3 linked regions of the Homo sapiens genome follow. The gene in region 3 interacts genetically with the main gene of each other region. Each region holds a gene or a part of one and is shown on either strand. Other genes may lie near its edges. The genes, in order: RBBP4, RUVBL1 and GEMIN5.

Region 1 (3,655 bases), on a different chromosome or scaffold from region 3:
ATAGAACTACCATTCAACCCAGCAATCCCATTACCGGGAATATACCCAAAAGAAAAGAAATTGTTCTACAAAAAAGACACGTGCACTTGTATGTTCACTGTAGCATTATTCACAATACCAAAGATACGGAAATCAACCCAAGTGTCCATCAATGGTTGACTGAATAAAAAAATTTTTTTGGCTGAGTATAGTGGCTCATGCCTATAAGCCCAGAACTTTGGGAAGCCAAAGTGGGTGAATTGCAAGAGCCCAGGAGTTTTCAGACCAGCCTGGGCAACGTGGTGAGACCTACTCTCTACAAAAAATACAATGGAAATCAGCTGGGCATGGTGGCGCATGCCTGCAATCCCAGCTACTCAGGACGCTGAGGCAGGAGGACTGCTTGAGCCCAGGAGGCAGAGGTTGCAGTAAGCGGGGATTGTGTGACTGCACTCCAGCCTGGGTGACAAAGCAAGACTCCGCCTCAAAATAACAACAAAAACTCAATCATTTAGGAAAAAAAGGCTGGATTCTGATTCCATACCAAATACCAGAATGACAAAAGTTTTAATGGCCCAAACATAAAAGTCCCAGAAGACAACAATAGATGAACACATACTTTATGAAATCATTGAATGGGAGGTCTGAGGTGGGAAGATTGAGGCCAGAGTTCCAGATCAGCCTGAGCAACATAGTGACATGCCATCTCTTAAAAAAAAAAAAAATTAAGTTATCTGGGTGTGGTGGTGGGCGCCTGTAATCCCAGCTACTTGGGAGGCTGAATCAGGAGAATAGCTTGAATCTGGGAGACGGAGGTTGCAGTGAGCAGAGATTGCGCCACTGCACTACAGCCTGGGCGACAGAGCCAGACTCCGACTCAAAAAAAATAAATAAATAAAATAAAAATCCAGGTATGGTGGTGTATGTCTGTAGCCAGAGCTACTTGGGAGGCATAGGTGGGAGGATCGTTTGAGCCCATAAGGAGGCTGCAGTCAGCTAAGATCATGCCAGTGCACTCCAGTCTGGGTGACAGAGCAAGGCTCCATTAAAAAAGCAACTTACAGCTTCTAACCAATAACAGGACTTAAGATTTTAAGTTAAACAAGAAAATGATCTGCACCTATTTATTGGGTGGAGAAGGTATAATTTACCTTATATGAAGAGGTAACTCAAAAGGAAATACGGGCAAAAAACATAAATAAACAGGAGATGTAAGCTCAACATCACAAATAAAAAAAGCAATGTAAACTTGAGAATGAACTCTACTGAGTCCAGTGTTGGCAAAGGCATGGAGAAACAGACATAAATACATACGCTGTTGTGGGACTTCAAATCTTTTTCTGGAGTGCAACTTAGCAGTATCAATTATATTAAAAAACGGTCCTGCCCTTTGATACAACATTCTACTTAGAAAGTATTTCTATAGCAAAACTATGCTTTTGAAGTCAAAAAATTAGAAACCATCTAAATGTCTATCAGTAAGGAATAGTTAATTATGGTCTACTATACAGCCATCAAAAGGAGGCAGGTCTCCATCTACTAACAAAGATACATGCCCCAGATATATTAGGCCATAAAAGCAAATTATGAACCTATATTGCATATTCTATACCTGGCATACAAAATTACTCAACATATTTGTTGAATGAGTGATCCAATACACAGGATAAATCCTTCAGAAAACAATACATCACAATACATCCATTTAAGTGATATCCAGGGGAAAGGTTTTTCTTTTGTTTTGTTTTTGAGACGGAGTTTCCCTTTTTTTTTTTGCCCAGGCTGGAGTGCAATGGTGAGATCTCGGCTCACTGCAATCTCTGCCTCCCGGGTTCAAGTGATGCTCTTGCCTCAGCCTCCTGAGTAGCTGGGATTACAGGTGCGTGCCACTGCACATGGCTAATTTTGTATTTTTAGTAGAGACAGGGTTTCACTATGTTGGCCAGGCTGGTCTTGAACTCCTGACCTCAAGTGATCCACTGGTCTCAGCCTCCCAAAGTGCTGGGATTACAGGAGTGACTCACCGCACCCGGCCAGGGAAAGGTTTATTATATGGGAGAAGGGGTGCGTTTTTTACATTGTGTGTAAAATTACATATATATGTAAAACCACATATATGTGTGTGTATACATTTATATTGTGTGTGTGTAAAATTACATATATTTTATATATATAAAATTTATATGTATATATAAATTATATATATTACACACAATATAAATATATACACATGTAGTTTTACATATATAATTTATATATTTATATATAAATATAATACATTTATATTATCTAAAATTATATATAACTATATTTTACACACAATATATACACGCATGTAGTTTTACATATACATACATATATACGTATGTTTATATATAAATATAACATTTATATTGTGTAAAATTACACATATAATTTTACACACACAATATAAATATATACACACACATATATGTAGTTTTACAATTTATCACACTACCAATCAGAGTATTTGTGCCTCAGTAACAAGAACAAAAGGCAGGAGGATCATTTGAGGTCCGGAGTTCGAGACCAGCCTGACCAACATGATGAAACCCTGTCTCTACTAAAAATACAAAAAATTAGCCAGGCGTGGTGGTGCATGCCTGTAGTCCCAGCTGCTTGGGAGGCTGAGGCAGGAGAATCGCTTGAACCTGGGAGGTGGAGGTTGCAGTGAACTGAGATCGCGCCACTGCACTCCAGCCTGGGCAGCAGAGCGAGACTCCATCTCCAAAAAAAAAAAAAGGAAAGCGTTTAAGCATTTCATGAGCAGTTAAACCCTTAGGTTATGGCCTAAAAACAGGATATAATTAAACAACTCATTGGAACTTAGTTTCTATACACATAGAGAGTGCCATGGTTAAGTCATTTCTACCACTTTAAACCTAGAAAGGGTAATTTAAGTTAGTGTTTCTCAACCTTTTTTTTTTTTTTACTATTGCTCCTCTAAGAACTCTTTTAAGAACTATTCCCTCCCCACCAGTCCCATGAAATTTTAATACCATAGATATCCTATGTCCTCTGTGCATATCTGTGCTTTAAACAATCAACCAGTAAGATTATTTACACCTACTCACATACACAAACCAATTTTCACCTCCTTAGGGGTAGTTATCTCCCGTGTTAAGAATGTATAGCAATATGGATGGGTGCAGTGGCTCACGCCTGTAATTCCAGCACTCTGAGAGGCTGAGGTGGGTGGATCACCTGAGGTCAGGAGTTCAAGACCAGCCTGGCCAACTTGGTGAAACCCTGTCTCCACTAAAAATACAAAAATTAACTAGGCGTGGTGGCGGGCGCCTGTAATCCCAGCTACTCAGGAGGATGAGGCAGAAGAATCGCTTGAACCCGGGAGGCGGAGGTTGCAGTGAGAGAAGATCGTGCCACTACACTCCAACCTAGGCAATAGAGCGAGACTGAGTAAAAAAATAAAAAATCAAGAATGTACAGCAATAATATATATTTTTGCTTCTTTCAATTGCAGAAATCCTCCCCACCAGCACCAGCTGAGAAAAGTTTATTGTGAAGGTACAGAACCAAGGATGTGTTAAGTATTTCTTCTGATACCTAAAACTCTAATATAAATATAAATACCTACCATTGCAAACTCAGGCTTTCCCTCAACCTTAAATATTGTTTCTAAAGTCAGAGTTTACTT
Region 2 (3,655 bases), on a different chromosome or scaffold from region 3:
TGGAACAAAGATCTAAAAGAAATTACCCATAATTTAGCAGAGTCAAAAAGATAACAAATATGAGAGGCTAAAAGACAAAGAGGACAAAACGAGAAGCTCTAGCCCAGGGTTTCTCAGCTTGACTCCATGACGTTTGTGGCCAGATAATTCCTTATTATGGAAACTGCTCTGTGCACTACAGGATGTTTAGTAGCATCCCTGGCCTCCACCCACTAGATGCCAGTAGCACCCCCAACCAAGTCGTGAGAACCAAAAATGTCTCCAGACGTTGTCAAAGTCCCCTGCAAGGGCAAAACTGCCCCAGGTTGAAAACCACTGCAATCTTAACCTCATCTCAGTGGAGTTCCAGAAGGAAAGAACAAAGAGAATGGGGAAAGGCAATAGCTGAAGAGATTAACGCTGACAGTTTTTTTGTTTTTTTTTTTTTTGAGACGTAGTCTTGCTCTGTCACCCAGGCTAGAGTGCAATGGCATGATCTTGGCTCACTGATACCTCTGCCTCCCAGGTTCAAGCGATTCTCCTAAGGCTGACAATTTTCCAGAATTGAGCAGAGACATAATACTCAGATTCAAGAAGCACAATTAGCATTAAGCATGATAAACAAAAATTAATCCACTCTGACATATAATAGTGAAACACCAAACCCAAAAATATCTCAAAAACATGCAGAAAGAAGACTCAAAACCCTCAAAATTAGACTTCTCAAAAACAACAGAAGCCAAAGGAGCAAATAACATTGAGAGAGAAGTACTGTGAAACAGTACTGAAGAAAATATCTGTCAACTGAATTATATAGCCAACATAGCTCTTTTTCAAAACAAGGGCAACATAATGAATGCAAACGTGAGAGACTTTCCCACCAACAAACTTCTAGAAGAAATTTCTAAATTATTTACTTTAGGAAGAAGAAAAATGGAGGGAAAGAGAAGGTCTAAGATATAAGGAATAGCAAGCAAATAAATGGTAAATGCACTGGACAAGCTAATGTTGCCTGGAGAGAGGTAACTGAAGCTCACATCTGTATGGCACTTTACAGTTTAAAAAACTGTTCACAATTTGCTTTTATATAGGAAGAGAAAAAACTGTTCACAAATATAGCACTTCTTCCTCTTGTAAGATACCAATATAAGATACACAATCAGTAATCATTTCAAAATTATAATGCAAGTCATTATCTTACAATCGATCAGTTTAATAATTGCTTGAAATAGGTAGAGTATGCTTTTGCTTAGAAAAGTTAAGGGACCTGCCTCAGGTCTCATAGCAAGTCAATACTAGAGCTGGAATTTAAAGCCCATTTCTTTTCACACACAACCCCAAGCTCCTACTTGCCCACATCAAGCGGCCCTTTTGAAGAATAAGCAAGCTCAAATTGGGAACTCTGGTGAGTTTCAAGTATCTGGCCAGTCCCCTCACGAATCCCAAGAAGCCACACGGTGTCCTCTGCCTGAAAGGCCCTTATCTTCCCTGCAAAGCCAAATCCTCTCCCAGCTCTGAAGGGAAAATGTCAAGTCTCAACCCTTCCAGCTGTACCAGCCCACAGTGCTGCCTCCTTAAATTCCAGCTGCATTTAATATTAGTCAATACCTCAAAGCTGAGCACTCATACTGAGTCCTCCTGTGCTGTCATGATTTCCTTTCTTTCTGCCCTGGAGAGACTGTAAGCCCCTTGAAGATAAAAATCATGTCTCTAATTCTTGTTTTCCTTTTTTTCATCTCCCACACAGCCACAATAGCGATGCGTAAAGCTAGCATTTGGAAGAATGCTTGACTCATTTTTTTGTCCCCTCAAGTAAGATGTCACTCAGAAGATCTTTATGAAGCCCTAGGCCAACAGAAATGTATTTCCACAGCAAAGGAGACTTGAAAGAGAAAAAGGACAAATTCTAGAGACAATGAGACCCCTTCAAGGACTTCATTCTTTCTTCTCTGGAGGTAGGCCAGGATAATTTGAATTTTAGAAGCAGGGATTTTAGATACCCAATTGTATTATTGCATATTAATTTTAAAAACATACATATAACCCATTTAGCTAAACAAAGACTAGTTAAGACATGAATTCAATTTGGCTTAGACACTAGGATCATTCTCCTGGGTAGATTTAAAAAATGAGAGAAAATGAGTACCTTGCCAGTTCCAGGAGGTCCTGCCAACAAGACAGCTCTTCCAGCCATTTTCTTGCTTTTGATTAATTCTACTATGACGCCACATGCCTACACACCACAATGGAAAGAAATAATAAATCAATATTAAAATGTTTCACAAGGGGAAAAATCTCAGTCCCTGGCCTACACAAGTCACACACTCATCCAACTAACACTGAGTGCCAGTGCACTGCAGTCACTGTTCTAGGTGCCGAGGGTAACGAAGGCAAGGCAGAAAAGCCTTGTACTTGTGGAGCTCATGTTTTAGGGAGGGATACAAACATACAAACATTGCACACATAATCTTCATCACTACTATGAAGAAAAAGGGATGATGAGAGAGAACGAGTGGCTAGAAAGTGATCCTGGAGTGTCTTTCTGATGACATTTAATTTGATATGTGAACCTCTGGGAGGAGCAGGAGTCAGCGTTCCAGGCAAAGAAAACAGCGAATTCAGAAAATCCAAAGCAGAAACAAGCTTGGCATATCCAAGGGACAGAAAGGTTGCAGTGACCAAAGTATAGCGAAAAAGACCAGGAAGATGAGGTTGAAGAGGTAGACAGCGGCCAGAACGCAGAACAGGAACTTACAGTGTGTGGTAAAGTTTGGATTTTATTCTACATAAATAATACAAAGCCACTGAAAAGGTCTTGAAGACTATGTGTCATGCTATGATTTGTTTTTAAAAGATGGTGCTAGCTACTACTGTGTGAAGAATGCACAGTATGAGTACAAGTGGGAACACTGATTTTTGGCCCAGGGTACAGGGATAGACGCCAGGGGCCCAAATACCTCTTGAAGTTGGGAACGAAACTGTGTTTATGTTCATATATACATTTTTTCCAGAGAAAGGATCCATAGCTTTCATCAAATTCCCAGAGTAACCTATTAAGGGGTAAGAATCAATGACATAGAGTACTAGCTGGCCATCAGTGAACACTGTAAATACTGAATGTGAAGTTAAACCTATGGCACTATTAGATCCATTGAATATGTTTTGAATCCTCAAGGTTAAATTACTTTATCATCTGTTAGTATATTTTAAATACATTATAAATCTCTGAATTTTATTAACCATTTGCAGTACACATGTGTGTATATATACACACACATATTCCATAAATGGGCTATGGAACTTCATATATTTTAGAATATTTGACTATAAGGGGGGAACACTGAGAAAGTTACACTAGCTGAGCATCTATATCTCAGGATTACATAATATAAGGTTTGCTACACTGATTTAATAACTGAATACGTGACTATCTAAAAGGTGCTCTTCTCTCTGGGCAGTGACCACACTGTGCCAGAGTCTTGTGAATACATCTTATCTCTTCTACCTCTATTCCTCATGGACTGTGAAGTACCTTGGTCCCACACTTATGGCAGCCCCTCAAAAAATATGTAAGGACTACAGGCGCCTGCCACCATGCCTAGCTAATTTCTTGTATTTTTAGTAGAGAAGGGGTTTCACCATGTTAGCCGGGATGGTCTCAATCTCCCGACCATGT
Region 3 (3,305 bases):
ATTTCAGACCCTGCTTTCAATTCTTTTGGGTGTATACCCAGATGTGGAAGTGCTGGATCCTATGGTCATTCTATTTTACATTTCTGGAGGAAGTGCTGCTGTACTGTTTTCCACAGTGGCTGCATCATTTTACATTCCCACCAATAGGCACAAGGGTTCCAATGTCTCTGCATCCTCCTCAACACTTGTTCTGTTTCTCTGATAGTAGCCTAATGGCTATGAAGTGCTGCTTCACTGTAGTTTTGATTTGCATTTCCCCAATGATGAGATGTTGAGCATCATTTCCTGTGCTTACTGGCTTTTTAGAGAAATGTCTATTCAAGTCCTTTGCCCATCCTTGAATTGGATTATCTTTTGTTATGCCTGGGTAGCTTTTACCTTTTATTTTTAATATTTTTTAAAAATTTAAACTTTTGCCTATGACACAGCCCTCAGGAGGCCCTGAGAGCATATGCCCCTGCCTGGGTTACTTTTATCTCATTTTATAAATAAAATTCCTTTGTCACCTGGCTTCTTAAAATTTAATTTTTTTTTTTTTTTTTTGTAGAGACAGGGTCTGTCAACCAGGCTGGTATGAGTGGCATGATCGTATCTCACTACAGCCTCGAACTCCTGGGCTTAAGTGATCCTCCCACCTCAGCCTCCTGAGTAGCTGGGACTACAAGTGCATGCCACCACTACTGGCTAATTTAAAAAAATTAATTTTTCTAGAGACAGGGTCTCAATATGTAGCCCAGGCTGAACTTGAGCTCCTGGCCTCAAGTGATCCTCCTGCCTCAGCCTCCTAAGTAGCTACAGGGTACATGCCACCACACCTGGTTACTTTATTTGTATTTTTTGAGATGAAGTCTCCCTCTGTTGCCCAGGCTGGAGTGCACTGGTGCGATTTTGACTCACTGCAACCTCTGCTGCCCAGGTTCAAACGATTCTCTGGCCTCAGCCCCCCAAGTAGCTGGAATTACAGGCATGTGCCACCATACCCAGCTAATTTTTAGTAGAGACGGGGTTTCACCATGTTGGCCAGGCTGGTCTCAAACTCCTTACTTCAAGTGATCTGCCCACCTCGGCCTCCCAAAGTGCTGGGATTACAAGCGTGATCCACTGTGCCCGGGCTTTTTTTTTTTTTTTTTTTTTGTAGAGACAGGGTCTCGCTTTTTTGCCCGGGCTGGTGGTGAACTCCTGGGCCAAGTGATCCTCCTGCTTCAGCCTCCCAAAGTGCTGGGATTATAGGCATGAACCACTGTTCCTAGCCAGCAGGGTCATTTTTCATTCCGTCTTGTACTTGCCTCAGTACTTACCACTGGCTCTGAGAACTGCAGAGGGGCTGCTCTGCTTCTACTTCCGGTTCATTCTTATCAGGACCATTTGCTGTGGATTTACAGAGTTGACTCTTTTGGTGTTGTCGGATCATTTCTGCCAAGGTCTCTTGGACTTCAGCAACAGTTCTCTGTGAGTTTTGGAGACTGGCATGCTTTTCTGAAAAGAGCTCCTTAAAAGTACTCAGCATTCGCTCACCTTCTTCTGTGAGTCTCAAGTCTAGTTCTGAAGGCCTGTTTGGCTCTGGCTGAGAAGTTTCAGGGTCCGTTTCTTCAGTGCTGGCAGTGTCTAACTGCTGGCTTGGCTCAACAGAGAGTGTTCTGTGACCAGCCCTTACCCAGACACTGGAATTTGGGCAAGGTCTGGAGAGAGACCACCAGAATTCATACAGACGCCCATAAAGAAAAAAGGCCTCCAAACTTTTGAAAGCTGGTGTGGCAGGGGATTGATGGTCCCCCAACTTGTCTCTTAGGTGGTCACAGCCTAGGAAAAGAGGAAAAAGATACTGGGTCATGCATTTCTCTAGTTGCCAGAAATGTGGCTTCCTGCCCTTATGTTCTATTTCTTATCAACCAAGAAGCAGACCCCAGGAAAAAGGACAACAGTGTGATCCACCGGGCCACATGCCTTTCCACCAAGAGCCAACTGGAGGCTAAACATTTCCTGGCTTGCGACAGTGTTCTCATTACTACATCCTAGGAGTCATTCAAAGCATGATAGAGTATTCCATTTGTACTACTGAAGGCTCTGGGGCCACGACAACAGATCACACTGTCTCTCTGAAAAATCACAATGATTTAGTTCAGTGACTGACTATGCAGCCCAAGGAATGTCTATCTTTTTTGCTGTTCTTTTCTGTTCTTACTAACATGTAACTACATTCCTATTTCTCTCTCCCTTAAACTTTGTGGAAAGTGGACAGGAGGCTGTAAGAGGGTAGGGCCAGGTAAAGGAAACAGTATAGTTGTTCTTAAAAGCTTCGGTAAGAGAATCCAAACTTTCTACTAAAATGACACAGCTGGCCAATCTCCATCTTTTAAGAATCTAGGTACTCCCAGTGCCACACCACTAATGGTGGTGATGTTGTCCATTAAAGGGTGTGCCTCAGGCAGCAGGAAGTCACTTACCGTCAGGGAGAAAGGCTGAGTACACTTCCTGCATGATGGTGAAGCTCCCTGAGTCATAGCTCCGGACCACCGCCCGAAGGAGCGCCTGCACAGCCTCGTCCCAGGAGGCCATCTGTTGGCTCAGCACTGCCAGGGTCAAGTCATGGCAAATGTGAAGCAGGAGCTGGAGAGAGAAGCCAGAGTCTGAGTTAAACATCCTCCCACGGTAGGCGCAGAGGATGCCACCAAACTGTTCCTGTGAACCGCATTTGGAAACAAGTACACACAATTCACACTTTGAAAGTTCCTCTTGTCTCCGCCACCCATTTTTGCTTCCCACATCGGAAACTCTCATGTCTAGTTGCACAGCAGCACACACACGTCCCGGTGTTAAAGTCTGTTCACACTGAGAAAACACCTTTACATTTGCATTTAATTAAAACAAAAAGTGGGCCAGGCGCGGTGGCTCATGCCTGTAATCCCAGCACTTTGGGAGGCCAAGGTGGGCAGATCACAAGGTCAGGAGTTCAAGACCAGCCTGGCCAACATGGTGAAACCCCGCCTCTACTAAAAACACAAAAATTAGCCAGGCATGATGGCGCGTGCCTGTAGTCCCAGCTACTCGGGAGGCTGAGACAGAAGAATTGCTTGAACCCGGAAGGTGGAGGTTGTGGTGAGCTGAGATTGCGCCACTGCACTCCAGTCTGAGCATGAGAGTGAGACTCCCTCTCAAAACAAACAAACAAACAACAAAAACAAAAAGTGAGTTTCTGGAACTAAAAGCTGTAATTAAAAACAAAATAAAGGCTGGGTGCAGTTGCTCACACCTATAACCCCATCACTTTGGGAGGCTGAGGCGGGCGGATCACCCGAGGTGAAAGC

Evidence for each region.
Region 1: changes in GEMIN5 (region 3) and RBBP4 together harm fitness less than expected from each alone (positive genetic interaction), as found in Homo sapiens cells (one large-scale study listed by BioGRID).
Region 2: changes in GEMIN5 (region 3) and RUVBL1 together harm fitness less than expected from each alone (positive genetic interaction), as found in Homo sapiens cells (one large-scale study listed by BioGRID).

The regions. Positions count from the first base shown.
Region 1 is NC_000001.11:32,657,638-32,661,292, reverse strand, and holds part of RBBP4 (histone-binding protein RBBP4), read right to left. Parts: intron 1-3,655. UniProt on the Homo sapiens protein: Core histone-binding subunit that may target chromatin assembly factors, chromatin remodeling factors and histone deacetylases to their histone substrates in a manner that is regulated by nucleosomal DNA.
Region 2 is NC_000003.12:128,117,203-128,120,857, forward strand, and holds part of RUVBL1 (ruvB-like 1), read right to left. Parts: intron 2,213-3,655; coding exon 2,126-2,212; intron 1-2,125. UniProt on the Homo sapiens protein: Possesses single-stranded DNA-stimulated ATPase and ATP-dependent DNA helicase (3' to 5') activity; hexamerization is thought to be critical for ATP hydrolysis and adjacent subunits in the ring-like structure contribute to the ATPase activity.
Region 3 is NC_000005.10:154,889,943-154,893,247, forward strand, and holds part of GEMIN5 (gem-associated protein 5), read right to left. Parts: intron 2,608-3,305; coding exon 2,445-2,607; intron 1,801-2,444; coding exon 1,299-1,800; intron 1-1,298. UniProt on the Homo sapiens protein: The SMN complex catalyzes the assembly of small nuclear ribonucleoproteins (snRNPs), the building blocks of the spliceosome, and thereby plays an important role in the splicing of cellular pre-mRNAs.